Homo sapiens: one gene and its partner. The protein of the gene in region 1 interacts with the protein of each later gene in a biochemical or structural test. Each region holds a gene or a part of one and is shown on either strand. Other genes may lie near its edges.

Region 1 (8,923 bases):
CACACAGTTGGAATTCAAATGAAGTTGGACTCTAGATAGTGCTAGCTCTCTCCTTTATCCCTTCCTTCCTTCTTCCCTTCCTTTCATCCTCCTACCTTCTCTTCCTACAACTTGCCATCCTTGAATATGTCATTTTGGAAATCTATACAAGAATGCTTATTTACATTTCCCATTTCTCTCAAACCACACTTTCATAATCCCAACATGCATCTAAAAGTGGGAAGTAATCATTTCAGCAAGGCCTAGATAAGAAAACATGAGCAATGGAAACAATGACAATCTTTTCTTTTCCTTTTCCATCGGTTACAATTGAGTGACCTTGGGAGGTATCCAAATGATCATTTTGTCCATGCTTCTTGGCAAATACTTCAGCTAGCTTAGGAACTTGCCGCACGGGGTTAACCTCCTAATTCGACATAACGTTTTGGATAGGTAGGGATGGGTTATGGTCAGATCAGTTTTCATTGTTATATTTACATTTTGACTTTAATGGGGTTTGGACAAATCTCAAGAGCAGAGTTGCTATTGCCAGGCCCCAGCACTGCACAAGTACAGCCAGCAATTCGGCCCACCGACTGGCAGGATGGGCTCCTGCCCTGGGCATCACACACCTATAAAAATAAATTTGTTAAGGAACATACAGCCACTTCTGTCAGTAGAGGTCTGGTGCTCAGTGTTAAAGACTGCATAAAACTTTACCCTAAACTTTTGCTTTCAAAACCAACACCGTTCGGGCCCCAGAGAAACACTTCTCCCCTATAGTCCCTTGTCCTTGAAACAAAGGTGAGTGCATCCCACAACCTGAAGATTTGCAGGGTGTGCTGCTGCTGACATGGAAGATGGACACTCCTAAACGTGTGGATGATGTATAGTGGAGGCGCTTGATTCAAAGAAAAGTCAAATGAATTAAACTGTCAAAACCTTCCTTTTAGATAGCAAGCATATCATACAGTCTTAAATAATGAGGGTTTCCTAGCAATGCCAAACATTCATTTTCTTGCTTCTCTTTTTGTTACAATTCATGGTTCTGGCAGAAGTCATACAGCAGTATAGCATTTGCATGCGGTTGAACGTGGTGATTGGCCAATATTTTGAAAAATTAACTAATTAATGTTACTGTTAAAATGGTAGATATGAAGTTATAACACATGAAACATAATACTGATTATTTATGTTAGCAACCAGGTGGACAATGAATGCTAGAATTGCTAAGTTTATGTTTTATTTACACATTAATAAGGTGTAATTAAATTTCCAAATATTAAATAAAATGTTTATGCTTTAAAAAAATAACTTTTCAGTGTTTATATTCATTGTCATAATTTGTATTTTGCATTTTAATTCTAATAGATAACTTTAAATCATTTGAAAGAAAACTTTTAACAACTATAGAAAAATAATTCTAATTTTCTGAAATAAAAAAAGGAATTTACATTTGTGGTGTAAGTACAAACATTTTGTATGATTTGACTACATTAATCCTTTATTTATTTATTTTTTAGAATTGGGATTTCATTCTTTACCCAGACGGAGTGTAGAGTGCACAGCTCATTGCAACCTCAAACTCCTAGGCTCAAATGATCCTCCAGCCTCAGCCTCCTGAGTAGGTGGGACTACAGGGATAAACCACCATGTTTGACTATTTAAAAAACTGTTTTGTAGTGACAGGATCTTGCCATGTTGTCCAAGCTGGTCTAGAAATCCTGGCCTCAAGTGATCCTCTGGCCTCTGCCTCTTGAGTCGCTGGGATTACAGGTGTGAGCCACCACATGGGGCCTGAATAGATGAATCTTTTAGATCAATGTTGTTCAATAGTGCTTTCTATGATGATGGACTTGTTTTCTCTCCATGTTGTACAATACATTAGCTCTAGCCACATGAAGCTACTGAGCATTTGAAATGTAGCTAGTGTCACTGAGGAACAGAACACCTGAAATGCTGTTAGGTGCTACCATACAGAACAGCAAAGCTTTCAATCACCGCTGTCAATGGAACACAAATTAAGTGAAAATCTCAATTATAACAACACAGTGATTTTACTAAAGAGAAATATCAATTTTATAGAATAAATATATATGAATCATGTATATTACTTATCCATATAGCCTATCAAAGAAAATCTAGATATGTATAATGTCTAGCAGATATGCATAATTCAGTTGCTGATATTTTGCTTTTTGTCATATAAAATCTGTAGGTTTTATATTTCAATTTTATTGTTATATGTGTCAAGGTAGGAATATACATAGTAGTTTGCTAGCTTAATTAATAACTTTGAAATATTAGGCATATGGTAAGTGGCTATGCATTTGTACTCTTGCCCAAGCCTACCAATGTCAGGGGCTGGCCTGACAGCACCCCTAACTCTGAGCAGCCATTCTGCAAATGTCACTATTGTCCTCAGTGAGTCAGGAGTGAAATGTGGTTAAAACTAAATCTCTACTGCTGAAAAAACAAGTCAAAGCAAATGTCCCACTGGGAGGATTCCTACAGCATCCCTTCCTTAGAGGAAGTCCAATCCATTCATTTCAGCAGAGGACTTCCATTTAGGCTCAAAGGCTGCTCTGACCAGTTACCTGTAAGAGGGAGTAAACTAACAGTAGTTGTCATGAATTGAGAGGGCAGAAGCTGCTGGCAAAAATCCCACCACCCTTTGAAATGTGGATGGAAGGCTGCAAAGGGTAGAGTCAACTTAACAGTGTAAAGATAGAGAACAGGGGTAATAGAAATTTACAGACCCTCCCACTAAGCTTTAAGTAACAGGCAGAAGGGACAGGGTTTGTAGAGGTTACCAAGAGGAGTCCTGTGGCAGCAGCAGTTGGAGTACTGGCAGGGATTTCTGTCTAATGCCTCAGTGGCAGGTCCGTAGAGTGGCCCTTTCCTCTTCCATCCAGCTCCTCATCGTCCCCCCGCAGGGGGATTGAGTTTCCCTTGCCCATAGTGGTAACCTGCTTATTGACACATCTCATATCGATGTCTGCTTTTTTTTTTCTTCTCTGTCTTGCTGTCTCACCTTCCTTATAGTGCTTTCTGGGATCACTTCCCCAATTCAAAACCACTTATAGTTAAATCCTAACCTCCAGGTCTGTTTCTGAGGGAGCCCAGCCTAAGACAACCTCCAGTACTTAGCACAGTGCCTGACATATGGTATTGACTCAGTAGATATTTGCTGAAAGAATAAAATACTTTGCAAATGAAATCCTACCCTAATATTAACTTCACCTAATTTAAAGAAGTTACTCTGAAGCAAAGTGATTAGATCAACTTTTGTCTCCCTAGCTTCCACCTCTGTCCTCCCACTAGCAGAAAAACTCCATTGGAAAGCCTATTACTAATTTTTTTTAAAGCAAATTTGAACTGCAGTATAGAACACAAGTACATCAAAATGGAAAGCCCAGGTTGCAGATTTGACCATCCTCACTTGCTGATCTTGAAGACATTGCTTCCTTTCTGAGATTTCAATGTTCATTTCACAATTAAAGATAAGGTTCCATAAGCACATAGTTGGGAGAAGTGGCAGGACAATGTAAGCTCATATTAACAAGCAAATGATTAATATAGAGACTTCTAAAGAGCAGGTCTGGTAAGTATCTAGTAAGTGGACTTCCTGAAGTAAGAGGAGTGTTGGTTGCCACACTAAAGGCAAGTCTTCTAGTCCCCAAATTTGCCTTGGGAGGATGACAGCTGTATCTTTCTTGGTTCTGGTGTACAGTGGAGAACAGGGTCAAGATGAGTGTGGAATCCATTTATTTTTTTACGTGTTTATAAGCACTAGAAAGCAGTGAGCACTAAGCAGAGGACCCCTCTTGCGGAAAAAGTGCAGGAGAGCTCCTGGGTGCCTCTGTATCACCGGTTTGCCTTCTAGCCAGAATCATTGCTAGAACCCTGTCACTCAGTTACTTTGGTTCCTAATTTAACCTCTTCCCAAGCCTTCTATTGCGTTCAGTTAGCTAGGCCAGGAGCTTACAGCTGTCTGGTTGGTGCTGGCTCAATGTGCTTATTCCCTGGAAGATAGAAGGATCACTTACAAAAAAATTTACAATTAAAATAAAAAAATTATTTTTTGCTGAAGCATTGTAAGGTTTTTTTAATTCACTCAGACCCAAAATCGTAAAACTAAAATATTTCAAGACATTACTTGATTCACCCCCCACTTCTCTTTCTCCCCTGTTTCTCAGCACTTTGCACCAGATACAGAAACCACGGGTTATGTCCAAACCCTGGTTTTGGTGTGACCACCGCCTTCCGTGTACTGCCTGCGGCTCGCTTCGGGCCCACACGGGACACCGAGGCATGATGAGGACGCAGAACAGCAGAAGCGCGCCCTGCTTCCCGGGCGCCAGTGCTCGGGGCCAGCGGCGTGTACCCGGCGGGCCCGGCCGGGAGCGGGCTGGCGATCGCGGGGCTCGGCGCTCCCGGCTCCCGCGCCATCTCCCGGCGCCCGCCAACTTCGCTCCGCCCGCGGCGTAGAGAAGCTCGCAGCCCTCCGGAGCCTCAGCGATCTCCTGGCTCGCTTTTCCCGCAGCCGCCGAGCAGCGCAGGCCCGGCGACTCCGGGTGCAGCTGGCCCTGTGCGGTGACATCGCCGTCCGGCGCCAGGCTCGAAGCCGCCTGGCCGCGCCCGCGGGGTCGCAGGCCGCTGGTCCCGCCCGGCCGCGCTCACAAACTACTCGCGGCTCGTGACCCGGGACAAACTTCTGGCGGCGGCGCAGCCTCTTCCACAGTCACCCTCCCCAGAGCCAGCTACCAAAATAGAAGACGCGGCCGGGGCGAGGAGGTGGGCGGGGGGAGCCCGGTGGCCGCTCCTCCCCGCGCGGCTGACGCCCGCTTCGGCGGCGGTAGTGGCTGTGGCCGCGGGGCCGCCCCCAGCCGAGCTCCCGGAGGCGCTCGGGCGCGGGCCGGCGGGGCACGGGCGCTCACGCCCTCTAGCGGGCCGCGGCGGCGCCGGGCGGCCGTGACGTGAGCGCTCCCTTCAGCCGGCCTGCGGGGCACCGCCAGTCAGTCGGGGAGCAAGAGCCCCGCGCGCAGCCGGCGCGGGCTCGGTCATCGGCGCGCCGCCGCCCGGGGCTGGGCTTGGGGCTGCCTGTGGAGAGGCGGCGGGCGGAACGCGCGCGGCCACGGCCACGGCCACCGCCACGGCCACGGCCGGCAGCTCGGGTCCCGGGTCCCGGGCAGGGGAAGGGGAGAGGCGGCGAGCTCAGCAACCGGAACCGAGGGAAGATTTTGGCTCCGCGGGCTCGCCCTCCGCTCCCTCTGCCAGCGGCGCCAGACGCCGAGTGGGGCCAGGGACAGGGGAGGAGGACCCAGGACCCTGTGCCCGCGCCCCTGGAGCCGCTGGAGTTCGGACTTCTGCAACTGTTGGCACTTTGGGGGCTTGGCTTAGCGCTCTGCTGTTTACCCGTCTCTCCTCGCTGCCTCGGAACCAAAGCTCCCGGCCCCCTCCGCCCTCGCGCGCCCACCCACCGCCGCCGGGGAGCGGCCCGGCCCGCACTCAGCACCATGAGGGGACTTGGGACTTGCCTGGCGACTTTGGCCGGACTTTTGCTAACTGCGGCGGGCGAGACGTTCTCAGGTAAGCGGGACCGCCTCTGCCGCCCCCGAGGCGCGCGGGCCGGCGCGGGACGCCCGGGACGCCGACAGCTCCCTGGTGGTAGAGCCCTAAGGCTGGCGTCGGGGCCGGGCGGGGGGCGCGGCGGGCCGGACACCGCTTCTGCCTGTGAGCCGGGCGCTGGGCGAGGGGCCGTGGGGCTGGCAGGCACCCAGTCCTCGGGCGGGCGGAGCGGACGGACCCCGAGGGCGAGCTCCCCAGCCGGGACTGCCAGCTCGGCCGCCGTCCTTCCGCGGCCTGGGCTAGTGCTCAAGGTTGGGCGGCTTGCACTCTTGAGTCCCTGGCCGGCTGCAAAAGGAACAGCAGAAAACTTTGCTTGAAGTTCCCAGTTGCAGCCGCCGGGCCGCCTGGCGTAGGCGCTGCGCGGTCCCCGCCGACCCCGAGCAGCGGCCGGGCCCAGGCCGCTGGTGTTCGGCTGCGCCCGCAGCGATCGCCGGGAACTGGCGGCCGCTCCGGCGGCGGCGATCTCCCGGTGCCCTGCCCTCCCTGTCGCCCCCTGCCCGGCGCGGCTGGCGACCCCGGGAGGTCCCCGCGGTCGTGCAGCGTCTGCGGAGAGGCTGGGGGGAGTTCCTCGCCGGTCCCAGCGGTAGGGCTTGGCGGCCGCGGAGGGAAGCGGGCAGGTCCCCAGGCCCTGGCCACGGCCCTGCGCCCCGCTGGGCTCCCCCTCCCCACCCTCGTCCCCCTAGCGGAGCGCCGCGGCCAGCTGCAACTTGTTCATCCAGCCCGGCTGCCCGGGGGTCCCAGGTGGGAAGGAGAGGCACTGGCGGTGTGCGAGCAAGCGTGTGAGTGTGTGCGCGTGTGTGCCTGCACGCGCGCGCGGGGGCGTTCTAAGCCCAGAGGAACCCCTCACGGAGAGGATCTGTGGATCGGAGTCGGGGGTCCGGCGTGGGGGCGAACCCGGCACGCTGTCACAGGGGTTTACAACCAGGATGACCTTTATTACCTGGGTGACACAGGTGGATAGACGGCAAATGCTGGCCCATTTGCACACCTTCTTTCTAGTGTTTATTAGATTAGTTTCATTAAGGTCCACATGCAGTGGGGGCGGTGGGCTTTCTTTTTCTTTAATAAAAAAGCCTGCTCTTTGGTCTTAAACTTGGTTTTTGCAAAATAGGTCTCTGCGTTTGGGAACAAGTGAGTTGAATGAGTAAGTTGGGCTTTTTAAGAATTTAATGAAGAGGACTTTCATAAACAGTAAAGAGCATATTTTAAGCAGTAAAAACCTTTGGTCCTCCGGTGCGTGGAAACCTTTTTATTTTCTTGGGGTCCAGGACCATTGGCTGCTGGAGCTCTGGACTCACAGGCACATTAGTTGTGTCTTGTGTGTTGCTGATCTGCAGGACCCTTGATCACAGTTGGCCTCAGAGAAGGAGTGGAACGTGTAGGTTTTGAAACCCAAAGCATCAACTTCAATACAGAAATATCCTTTCTCCAAGTTTTGTGTTTCCCTAACTGCCTGGTAATTGCACGTGCTCCAGAGGATTTAACACAATGATGCACTGTCGTCTGATTATAAAACTGATGCAGAATTTGGTCTGTGTTCTTATTAGTGAATAATAGAGTAGAATTTGAGAGCCTTGTAACTCATTAGTATTAGAAGCCAAGTATGAGAGCCCTAGTGATGGTTTTCTCTTTATTAACATCCATGACTCCCTTCTTGGGATTTGTTTAAAGTTAAGCTGTGTCAAATATCATTTGGATGGATTTTTAAATTGTGTGCAAGGGAGTGGAAACAAATATTTATATTGCTTATTTAAACCATGGGTTCCTCATCACCAAAAAGGATTTCAGCCTCAGTTGTACTGACCCATGTCCTTGTTAAGGCTGATGTAAATGATCAGTCAAGCCAAAATAGACTTCTACTAAAATTTAGCCTGATTTTTCATTTGGAAGAAATATATCTATTTGTTTGAGTTAATCATACCATTAAGTGAAATGTGTTTTCTTTTCTATCTAGAAAGCCAGAGTTATCCTGGCATGCTAGTGGGTAAAGGGCAGCATCCAAGCCATGCCTCAGAAACGTTGAACTTTAAAAAATGTAAAATTGGATTAGCTGGGTGTGGTGGCGTGTGACTGTAGTCCCAGCTGCTCTAGAGGCAGAGGCAGGAGGATAGCTTGAGCCCAGGAGTTTGAGGTTGCAGTGAGCTATGATTGCACCACTGCACCCCAGCCTGGGTGACAGAGTGAGAATCCGTCTCAAAAAAAAAGTGAAAAGTGAAGATGGCAAATTTCATATGTGCAAGGATCAGATATGTTTCACTTCATTATTTATTTTTCTCTCCATATTGCGTTTAGGTAGTACAGGTGTGAATCAGGGTTTTGTTTTTTGTTTTTGTATGTTGAGGAAGTTAATTCTGAATGCTAGGAGTGGCATTGACACATTTCTTTTTTATGTTTCTTCCAGAAATTGTAGTAATTGGCTGCTTTTCACTTGACATGGGAATAAATTTTAGAGCCAGAAGAGCTAGATTGTAAGCTCCCTGAGGGCAAAGCCAATTTTCGTTTTCTTCTGACTTTCTCACAAAACATTTCTCATAGATCCTTAGATGTCACAGGCATTATTACTATTTGTTGAATAAATCACTAATGAGAATCTTGATCATTTGCACATATTCAAATTGTGTGTGAATGGACCAATATATAATAAAATGGAGGGAGAGAAGTGATTGTTAAAAGTTAGACTTGGCTTGCCTTTTCCACACTGGGTTCTCTTTAGGCCAATGGACTAATCATGAGGGTTTATAAATATAATCAGTCAAGGGTTTTTGTATAACTCAGACATTATCTACACAAGGCACTCTGCCCTTTGCTTTCTGCAGTGCTCTCCTGTCCTCTTTTGGAATGGGTTTGGAATTGTTAAGATTGTTAATTAACCATTTCTGGAGGTGGACTACATGTGATTTGGATACCAGACATCAGAAATAGAATGCTAAACTTACTGGAAAAGTATTAGGATTTGGGCCTGTGATGACATTGCTTACTTATAATGATGGATTTCATTACAAAATTGTGGGTTTTTTTTTTTTTTTGGAGATAGAGTCTTGCTCTGTCGCCAGGCTGGAGTACAGTGGCACGATCTTGGCTCACTGCAACCTCCACCTCCCGGGTTCGAGCGATTCTCCTGCCTCAGCCTCCCGAGTAGCTGGAACTACAGGTGTGCACCACCACCACCGCCAGCTAATTTTTGTATTTTTAGTAGAGACGGGTTTTCACCATGTTGGCCAGGATGGTCTCAATCTCTTGACCTTGTGATCTGCCTGCCTTGGCCTCCCAAAGTGCTGGGATTACAGACATGAGCCACCGTGCCCAGGCTGAA
Region 2 (8,654 bases), on another chromosome or scaffold:
AGAAAATCCTTATTTACATCTAAACAAATAAGCAGGATAGTCTTACCTCATAGAAAAATTCTTCCTCTGCATTTGCAAACATTAACGCAGCTTTCTTTTTGTTGCTAGGTTTCTTTTTGGAATTGTTTTTTCCTGCTTCCACAAATGTCTTACTAATCAGAAGGTAAAAGTAGCACTTCCCACATGGCTTATTGGTTCTGTGTGCCCCCGCCAGTTCTTTCCTGCAAGGCACACACACAACATTTGTTTACCTGCTGGGTCAAGTGAAATCCATCAACAAACCAGAGCACAGAAAACCCGGTGAGGCATCTTCAGTGGGTTCTGCTGTGACGCAGGCATTCAATCTGAACACTTAGTCTACAGGAATGATTTTTATTTACATAATCAGTTGCATTTTAGATTATGTATTACTTTTTATAATACTATGATATATCTCTCAGATTATGCTGATTTGTGGATATATAGCAACTAACAGATCAGATGAGTCTCAAATTCACTCAATGTATCACTGCTCTGCCTGTGCATAAGTTAAAAATATATACGAATCTGAATTTTTGAATTTTTTAAAGCAATGAACATTTAACTGAAACACACAAAGGTATACAGCCACAACCAATGTCACTACAGCCTGTGACTACTACCACAGTCTCTAATTGCTAGAGTCTGGAACTAATTTCTGACATACTGCAGAAACTGCATAAACACACAACCTAAATTCTAGCAATGGAATCGCAACAAAGCCTTAATGTTTCTTCTTTCTGAAAATTAAACATAGCCTTGTGCATCTGGATGCCCTTGAACAAAAGAAGAAACTCAGAACAACCGTCCTCTTCAGCTTTCCTTTTTTTTTTTTTTCTTTTTTTCGTTTGGAGACAAAATCTCACTCTGTTGCCCAGGCTGTAGAGTACAATGGCACAATCTCGGCTCACTGCAACCTCTGCCTGCCAGGTTCACACGATTTTCGTGCCTAAGCCTCCTGAGTAGCTGGGATTACAGGTCTGCACCACCATACCCGGCTAATTTTTTGTGGGTGTATTTTTAGTAGAATTGGGGTTTCGCCATGTTGGCCAGGCTGGTCTCAAACTCCTAGCCTCAAGTGATCTGCCAGCTTCGGCCTCCCAAAGTGTTGGAATTACAAGTGTCAGCCACCACACCTGGCCTTTTCAAAAAAAAAAAAAGAAAAAAAAAAAGATAGGGTCTTGTAATTTTGCCCAGGCTGGCGTGCAGTGGCTATTCACAGGCACAATCATAGTATATTGCAGCCTGGAACTCCTGGCCTCAAGCATTCCCCCTGCCTCAGCCTCCTGAGTAGCTGCGACTACAGGCGTGCACCACTGCGCTTGGCTCACTTCAGCTTTAACAGGACTAGGAGAAAGCAAATCACCCTCCTATAAAACCAAATAAATGTGAGCTCCAGCTGATCAGAAAAAAAGAAAACCAAAAAAAAACAAAAACCACTTAAGGCACCAGAAGCACAATCTGAGCTACAGCTGAGAGAGCAGGGAGCAGGAGATAAGAAGCATCGAATCCCTAGGAAAAAACAGCAAACGTAAAGGTTTCCAGAGTAGAGTTGCATTCCTACAGCTATTTAAAGGAAAACCACAACGCAAGGGCTATGACCTCTGAGAAAGAATATTCTATAAAGAACCTGTCTAGGTCAAGTGCTGTGACTGACACCTGTAATCCCAACACTGGGAGGCCGAGGCAGGAAGATCACTTTAGCCTAGGAGTTCAAGACCAGCCTGGGCAATGTAGCAAGACCCTGTCTCTACCAAAAAAAAAAAAAAATTTAAATTAGATAGAAATAAATAAGAGAATCTGCCTATATTTTGTCCTCTGTTGCAAAGCACAGACAATACAATTCTTAGTACACTCAGTTTGCTAGATTTCACAGCTACATTTGAAATATTTTTGTAAACTTAAAACTTCTGGATTAAAAAATAGAATAACAAAAACCCTGAAAAGCTAGCCACAGTATCAGGACTATGGTTTCATTTGTTATGAAACATACCAATAGAATTTGGGAACTTTACCAGTTTTGTTATTGTTGTAATTGTTCATTATTTTATTCATGTTGCAGAAAGCTATCTGTGAAGGTGAAAAACTTCAATCAAATGGGGATGCAAAGTCTATATGAAATTATCTACTTATATATCACTTAAATCTTAAGTTAAAATTTCATGATTATTGTCACAAACTCTTCAAAAAGCCAGTTGTTAATAATGTATGTACTTCACAGGATGTTTCTTCCACTCCCCTCACACTAAACCCACTTAAACCAAGGACAGAACTCTTTCTATATCTACATATTCTACTTAAATGACATTTAGGAATCTATTTGAAAAAAAAATTACTGTTCAAAGATATTTTCCCAGAATCTCTTACTGAAGCTGCTGGTACATGGGCAGAGCGATCTGTGGAGGGACATTAATGAATCTTTCACTTAGGAGAAGGCCCACAGGCTTGGTGGTGTCATTTAAAAACTTGTCCAGCTGTTCAACCATGCTCTTTTCACAGTTCTTCTCACAGAAGCGTAGAACCAACTCTTGAATTTGTTCAACACACTGGGTACCCTAGAAAGCAAAGAGAAAGCTTGTTTCCTATTACAAGCCATCACATAGAGGACAAAACCTGAGAGTAAAAGCTATCACTTTTCATCTTACAGCTAAGGGCAGTTTCCTGCCATAGCCTTAACGTCTTGTATGTCTTCAGTGTTGACTGCTTAAGCATTTCTCAAAAGTAAATACACTGGTTATTTACCATCCCATGATGAGTGGTAAGAGAGTCATAATTAACATTCAGACACACTGGAATGGCAACTCTAGTCCATCTCATAAAGATAGATGGAAGTAACTGGACAGTTTATTTCAAAATTAAAGACTAAGTGTAGCCTGCATCTTATTCTGAGGTGGGTAAGCAGCTGGTTTACTTTTTATTACAACTCATCAGAGAATCAATAAAAAGAGATGAATCGAAACAAAATAAAATGTCAGTAAATGCCCTCAACATTGAGGCAGCAAAGCCTGAGAATATCCCCACTACACAAGTAGCAAAGATAACAGCTGCAGAGAGACAGCACAAACAGCTCCTGCATCAGTACCAACATCAGGACTGCAAAGCCAGATGATTCCCTAAACCACAGGGAGTAAACAACTTTAACTGGGTACAGACCCAACACCACCACCTTCATATTGAAAAAGGATTACAATAAGATTTCACAAGAGCACTTATCCCTATAGTTAATATCACTGTTTAACATAAAAGACATTTTCACCATGCATTAAATAAAAGTGGTTTTGGCCTAAGAAATAACCATTCAGATGCCATCCAGTGAAACCAACCTTTCTTTCAGTTAAATTTAAAAGGCTTATGAAACCAAAAACCTCATCTTCATCCATATCATCATTGCTGTCTTCTGAAACATCCGTTTGCTATTTTAAAAGAAAAAATATTTAAATGTTATATTTAGTATAATACCAAGAGTATAAAACCAAGTCTTGGGATGTAGGCCTCATTTATCTTTTCACTTTTCAAAAGCAAAACTTTGTTTTACCACCGCCATCTTAGAAAGCATTGTATTTTAAATACTGTCACAGTTTTACCACCATCATCTTGGAAAGCATTGTATCTTAAATACTGTGTGACCTTGTTCATTTCGCTTTACCTCGACTCTGTTCCTCTTTTCAGATTCTGAACAGATTGAAATTTCTTTGTACCAGATTAAGTCATTTTCTTTTATCAGATTCTCAATATAATACAAATCCAGAAGAGATAAACCTCATGAAATAAAGCATTTTCATTTGTTTTCTACACAATTAGGCTGGAGCCAAGCCTTGCTTCTCTGCTGGCCCACAGCATTGTTTCATCTAAAACTCATGAGTTTCCAGAACACTTGTCAGTCTTGACCATTAGTGAAGCTAGGCAATGCTTGAGGGCCACTTACACCTATCACATTAGCAAGAGAGAAGGGGAAAAAAGAGAACCCCCTGCCCTTTGTTCTATGATCCTAGGGACTGGCTCCACCGAACACTATGGGTAGTCCCTTTACTAAGAACAAGAAGTCTCTATCCTCAGGACACCTCAAGTGTCTCTGGAGAATCCCAAGAAGCCACAGTTACAACTGCAGAGCTATTGATGTGATTATCCATTTAAAGAGTGAATCCTGCCATTAGATAATAACCTCTTTCAAGGATAAAAATAACTGCTTCTCCTCCATATCCATTAGGTCTTCTAAGACACGAATCAGCTAGAGATCACATTTATTTGATGAAAGGGCAGGTGGTCTGCTTTTTCCCATTGCCCTAATAAAAGGAATGCCCCATAGGTTTAATTTCTCATTTTCTTTACATTGAGTGCCATAAAGTTACTAATATTGTCAGAAGCCTTGAAAAGTGTACACTGTATTTAGTAACAAGTATGTTGGTGACCCTATCACTCAGTGTCCGAATTTTAGTGGTGTAAAAGTCAGATAAGAGTGTCTGAAGAATGAATAGGAGGACAGGAAGTAGAAACCATGACTTAAGATTACTTTTCAAGAATTTTGGCTCTGAAGGTGATGTACTTAAGAGTGGAACATTAGACTGAATGGAGCTTTTGTTTGTTGTGTTTTTCACAACAGGCTAGGGAACAGGTGCTAGGAACAGGAAAAAGACATCAACAGTGACAGCTACACATATGTAGCACATGTCAGCTGCCAGACACTGTTTTAAGCAGTCAGCAATTCATTTTGTTTACCCATGCACTCTACAAGATCGGTGCTAGTACCATCCTCATTTTCAGAGACAGAAATGGAAACAGATTAAGGTACTGTGGCAGACTGTATCTTTCACAGATGGCCCCAATGGATCTCTCCTTGGACATGCTCTTCTGACAAAGTGACCTAGGTACTTTTCTCATGGAGTGGTGGGATCAATGTGCCCTCCCCCTAGATAGAAATTTCTATCTGTAAAGACTAAGCAAATGGTGGAAATGGCACTATATCACTTCTGCCTGCTTCTTTTGGGCAGCTTGCTCTTGGAAGCAAACCAATGTGTGACGAGGCCCACATGGAGAAGAACTAAGGCCCCTGGTCCAGAGTCCCAGCTAAGCTCCCGACAGACAGCTAGGGCTAACTTGCCAGTCATGTGAGTGAGCCATCTTGAAAGGGAATCCTCCAGCCCCTAGTCAAGCCACCCCAGCTAACATGATGGAGCAGGAGCACAGATGAGTTGTGCCCACTGAGCTCTGTCCAAACTGTAGATCCATTAGCCAAATAAATGACTACTGCTATTTTACGACACTAAGCTATGGGGTGGTTTGTTATACAAACAACAGATAACCCAAAGAACCACCAGATGATAAGCAGCAGACCCAGGGTCTAAACCAGTCCTTATTTTGTTGAGCTCTCTACAACATCTATCTGATAAAGATGACCATCCCCTCCTCCTTCAAATGTTATCTTTCTTGCTGTGTATGACATCACTGCACTATTGTTTCTTCTACTTCTCCTGTCATCCCTTTTAATCTCCTTTGCTGGCTCTGCCACTTATATTACTCATCGAAGTATTCTTGGTATTACTAAGGTGTCTGTCCCTTCCCTCCCTGCGCAATCTCAATCACTTCTACGACCTCAGTAACATTTACGACCAACTCCCAAGTCTCCAGGGCTCCACCTGCTACCCGGTATCTCACAGGTAACTCAAACTCAAAATGTACAAATCCAAATTCACATTCCCCCTCCTAATTTGACCTTCCTCCATGTTTGTTATCCTGTTTGCTCAAGCTAGAAACCTGGAAGTCATCCTTGACTCCTTTTCCTCTCACTTTCAGACCCAATCAGGGACTAAACCTCATCATATTTCATCTCCCAAATATTTTCTAAATGAGCCCACTTCTCTCCCTCTCCATTGCCCCCACCTGGACTACTGCATTTAATAAGCTTGGATTTCTGCAATGACTTCTGATCAGTCTCCATTCCTCCAGTAATACTGCTTCCAATTTGAGCTAAACAGAATAAAGAACTTTTTTTTTTTTTTTTTTTTTTTTTCAGATATAGGGTCTTGCTGTGTTGCCCGGCTAGAGTGCAGCGGCACAAAGCTCACCATGGCCTTCAACTTCTTGGCTCAAGAGATCCTCCTACCTCAGCCACCTGGGTAAAAAGACTACAGGCATGTGCTACTATGCCCGGCTAATTTTTTGTTATTTTTTGTAGAGACAGAGTATTGCTATATTGCCCAGGATGGTCTTGAACTCCTGGCCTCAAGCAATCCTCCCACCTTTGCTTCCCAAAGTGCTGGGATTACAAGCATGGTGAGGCCCAGCATGAACAGAATAAAGAACTCATTTAATCAGAATAAACACAATTATCCTACTTACCTTAATCACACTCCCAATATGGTTCTGTTGAATTAAGAGATCTGTTAGTTCTGCAGTGTTCACAGGAGCCTTTAGAAAAAGCTAAAAGGAGGAAAAAATTATTTTAAATTAAGATCAAAGCATGATTTCTAATAACTTCAAATCCTATATTCAAATACAAACAATGAAATTTCTGTGACTTAAGATGATGATCTAGAAAAGCAACCCCAAGAGGGAAAGAAAAGCCCAGGAGAGTCAAAGAAGCTAAAGATTAGGAAATTTCAGAAAAGAAGAAGTCAGTAGTAATATAGAAGTAATGGGGGAGGGGGAGAAAAAAGGGAGAAACGAGAGAGGATAAACTTAAGGCCAAAGAATTTGGTGAAAAAGACGGTAGAGCTATAAAGGCTAAAGAACCAAAGTCATATTATATGAGTAAAAGAATAAGGAGAAGCAGCAAGCATCAATTTTATAGCACCAAACAGCACAGTTATATGACTGTTACATAAGAATTGTGAATTAAAAAAAAAAACAAAATAACTCTAATTAGCAGATGAAAGGAAATAATTCTTCCTTCCAGGCAAGGTGGAGAGGATAGAAATGGAAATTCTAAAAAGATGAACTTGGGAGAGCCTGTATTGAATGACCTGAATTTTCTTTTTTTTTAGAGACAGAGGCTCACTCTGTTGCCCAGACTGGAGCTCAATGGCACATTCATAGCTGCAGCCTTGAGCTCTTAGACTCAAGTAATCCTCCAGCCTCAGCCTCCTGAGGAGTTAGGACTAACGGTGTGTGCTACCACAGTTGGCTAATTTTTAATTTTTTTGTAGAGACAGGTTCTCATTATGTTGCCCAGGCTGGTCTCAAACTCCTGGGCTCAAGCAATCCTCTCACCTCGGCCTTCCAAAATGCTGAGATTATAGGCATGAACCACTGCACCCGGCCCCTGATTTTTCTTAGAAGAGGAAATTTATGCATAATAAATAAAAGACAATACCTGCTGCAGTAATTTCTTAATTCCGTCATAATCATTATCTGATAGGGAATAAGCTTCAAATTCAATATTCACTTCCTGTAAATAACACACAAAATAGTTGTTACCAGAAAAACTACAAACATCTAGACTTTAAAACAGGCAAACATTGCCAAGATTGCCATCTGTGAAGAATACAAAGCACCTTCACACTATTTCTTCAGGTGACACAAAAGCCTGAGAAAACAAAACACTCAGAGTAACCTAGTTTAAATGTTGAGAAAGTCCAGTTCAAATAAACCAGACACGGCAGCCACAAAGGATAAATTATTTTCCTGATTACAAGGGTGGGCAAAAATCAAAATCACTTCAAAAGTCCCTGGAATTGCCTAGAGCTTGACTTAGCCCATGGATTTGAGGTTACACTACATTTGCTTAGCAAATATTTATTAAGTATCAATCCAGGTACCAAGCACTGTGCCAGGCACTCAAGATGAAAAGGTTAGTAAGGCAGACACAAATGATCCTGCTCTCGTGCAGCTTACGATTTAGGAAGGAATATAGGCATTAAGGAAATATTCATAGAAATAAATGTAAGTGCTATAAAACAAAGGTACACAATGTTGTAACAACTTAAAAAATAAGAAGTCAGTCAGGAAAGCCTTCCTTGAAGTGACATTTGAGCAAGAAACCGAGAAACAGCAAAGAGAGTTCCTGGTACAGGGAACAGCACAAACTAAGGCCCTAAGGCAGAAGGAAATACAATGAGTACAAGGGACTAGAAGAATGAATGTGTAGCTGGGCTCCCTGATCTCTATCTGCAAGACAACAGAATCTAGAAGATGGAACTAAAATGCCAAAAACAAAACCTAGTTGCTTTTAAACACTAACAAGATTAGTCCTTGAGGACCCTAAATCAGACCTTGATAAGTGACACAATGAACCTGGGGCTCTGATGAAATAATATATTTAAAGGCACTTCAGGTTTTAACGGTTTCAGAATTTAGGTCTTAGCTGAAGAACATCGCAGAGGAAATCAGACCTCCTTTTACCTTGCCACCCTGACTATGTATATATTTAAGTCTTCCTTAATTGTAAAATTGCAAGGCCCTGGAATTGCTTAGAGCAATTCCAGCTCCAATTTGAACTCTTTAAGTCCAGCTTTGCAGACTTCAAATGCTAACTTAGCCAGATTATGTGAGCAGCAAAACACAAGGGGTCGGGTGGGAGTGTTCCAAACAGGATCAAACTAAACCAAATAACAAACTGTCATTATTCAGGACTTAAACTTATTCCTTAGATATAAATACATTCTGTAAATAATGCTCATCTAGTGTTTTTTTCTTTGTCT

The links. Proteins that work in one complex are often made in the same cells at the same time.
Region 2: the proteins of PTPRM (region 1) and BCCIP form a complex in vitro, tested with the Homo sapiens proteins (one study listed by BioGRID).

The regions. Positions count from the first base shown.
Region 1 is NC_000018.10:7,562,321-7,571,243, forward strand, and holds the start of PTPRM (receptor-type tyrosine-protein phosphatase mu isoform 1 precursor), read left to right. Parts: upstream 1-4,995; 5' UTR 4,996-5,498; coding exon 5,499-5,571; intron 5,572-8,923. UniProt on the Homo sapiens protein: Receptor protein-tyrosine phosphatase that mediates homotypic cell-cell interactions and plays a role in adipogenic differentiation via modulation of p120 catenin/CTNND1 phosphorylation.
Region 2 is NC_000010.11:125,825,339-125,833,992, reverse strand, and holds part of BCCIP (BRCA2 and CDKN1A-interacting protein), read right to left. Parts: intron 7,403-8,654; coding exon 7,328-7,402; intron 6,436-7,327; coding exon 6,355-6,435; intron 3,432-6,354; coding exon 3,342-3,431; intron 2,574-3,341; coding exon 2,386-2,573; intron 222-2,385; coding exon 47-221; intron 1-46. UniProt on the Homo sapiens protein: During interphase, required for microtubule organizing and anchoring activities. During mitosis, required for the organization and stabilization of the spindle pole.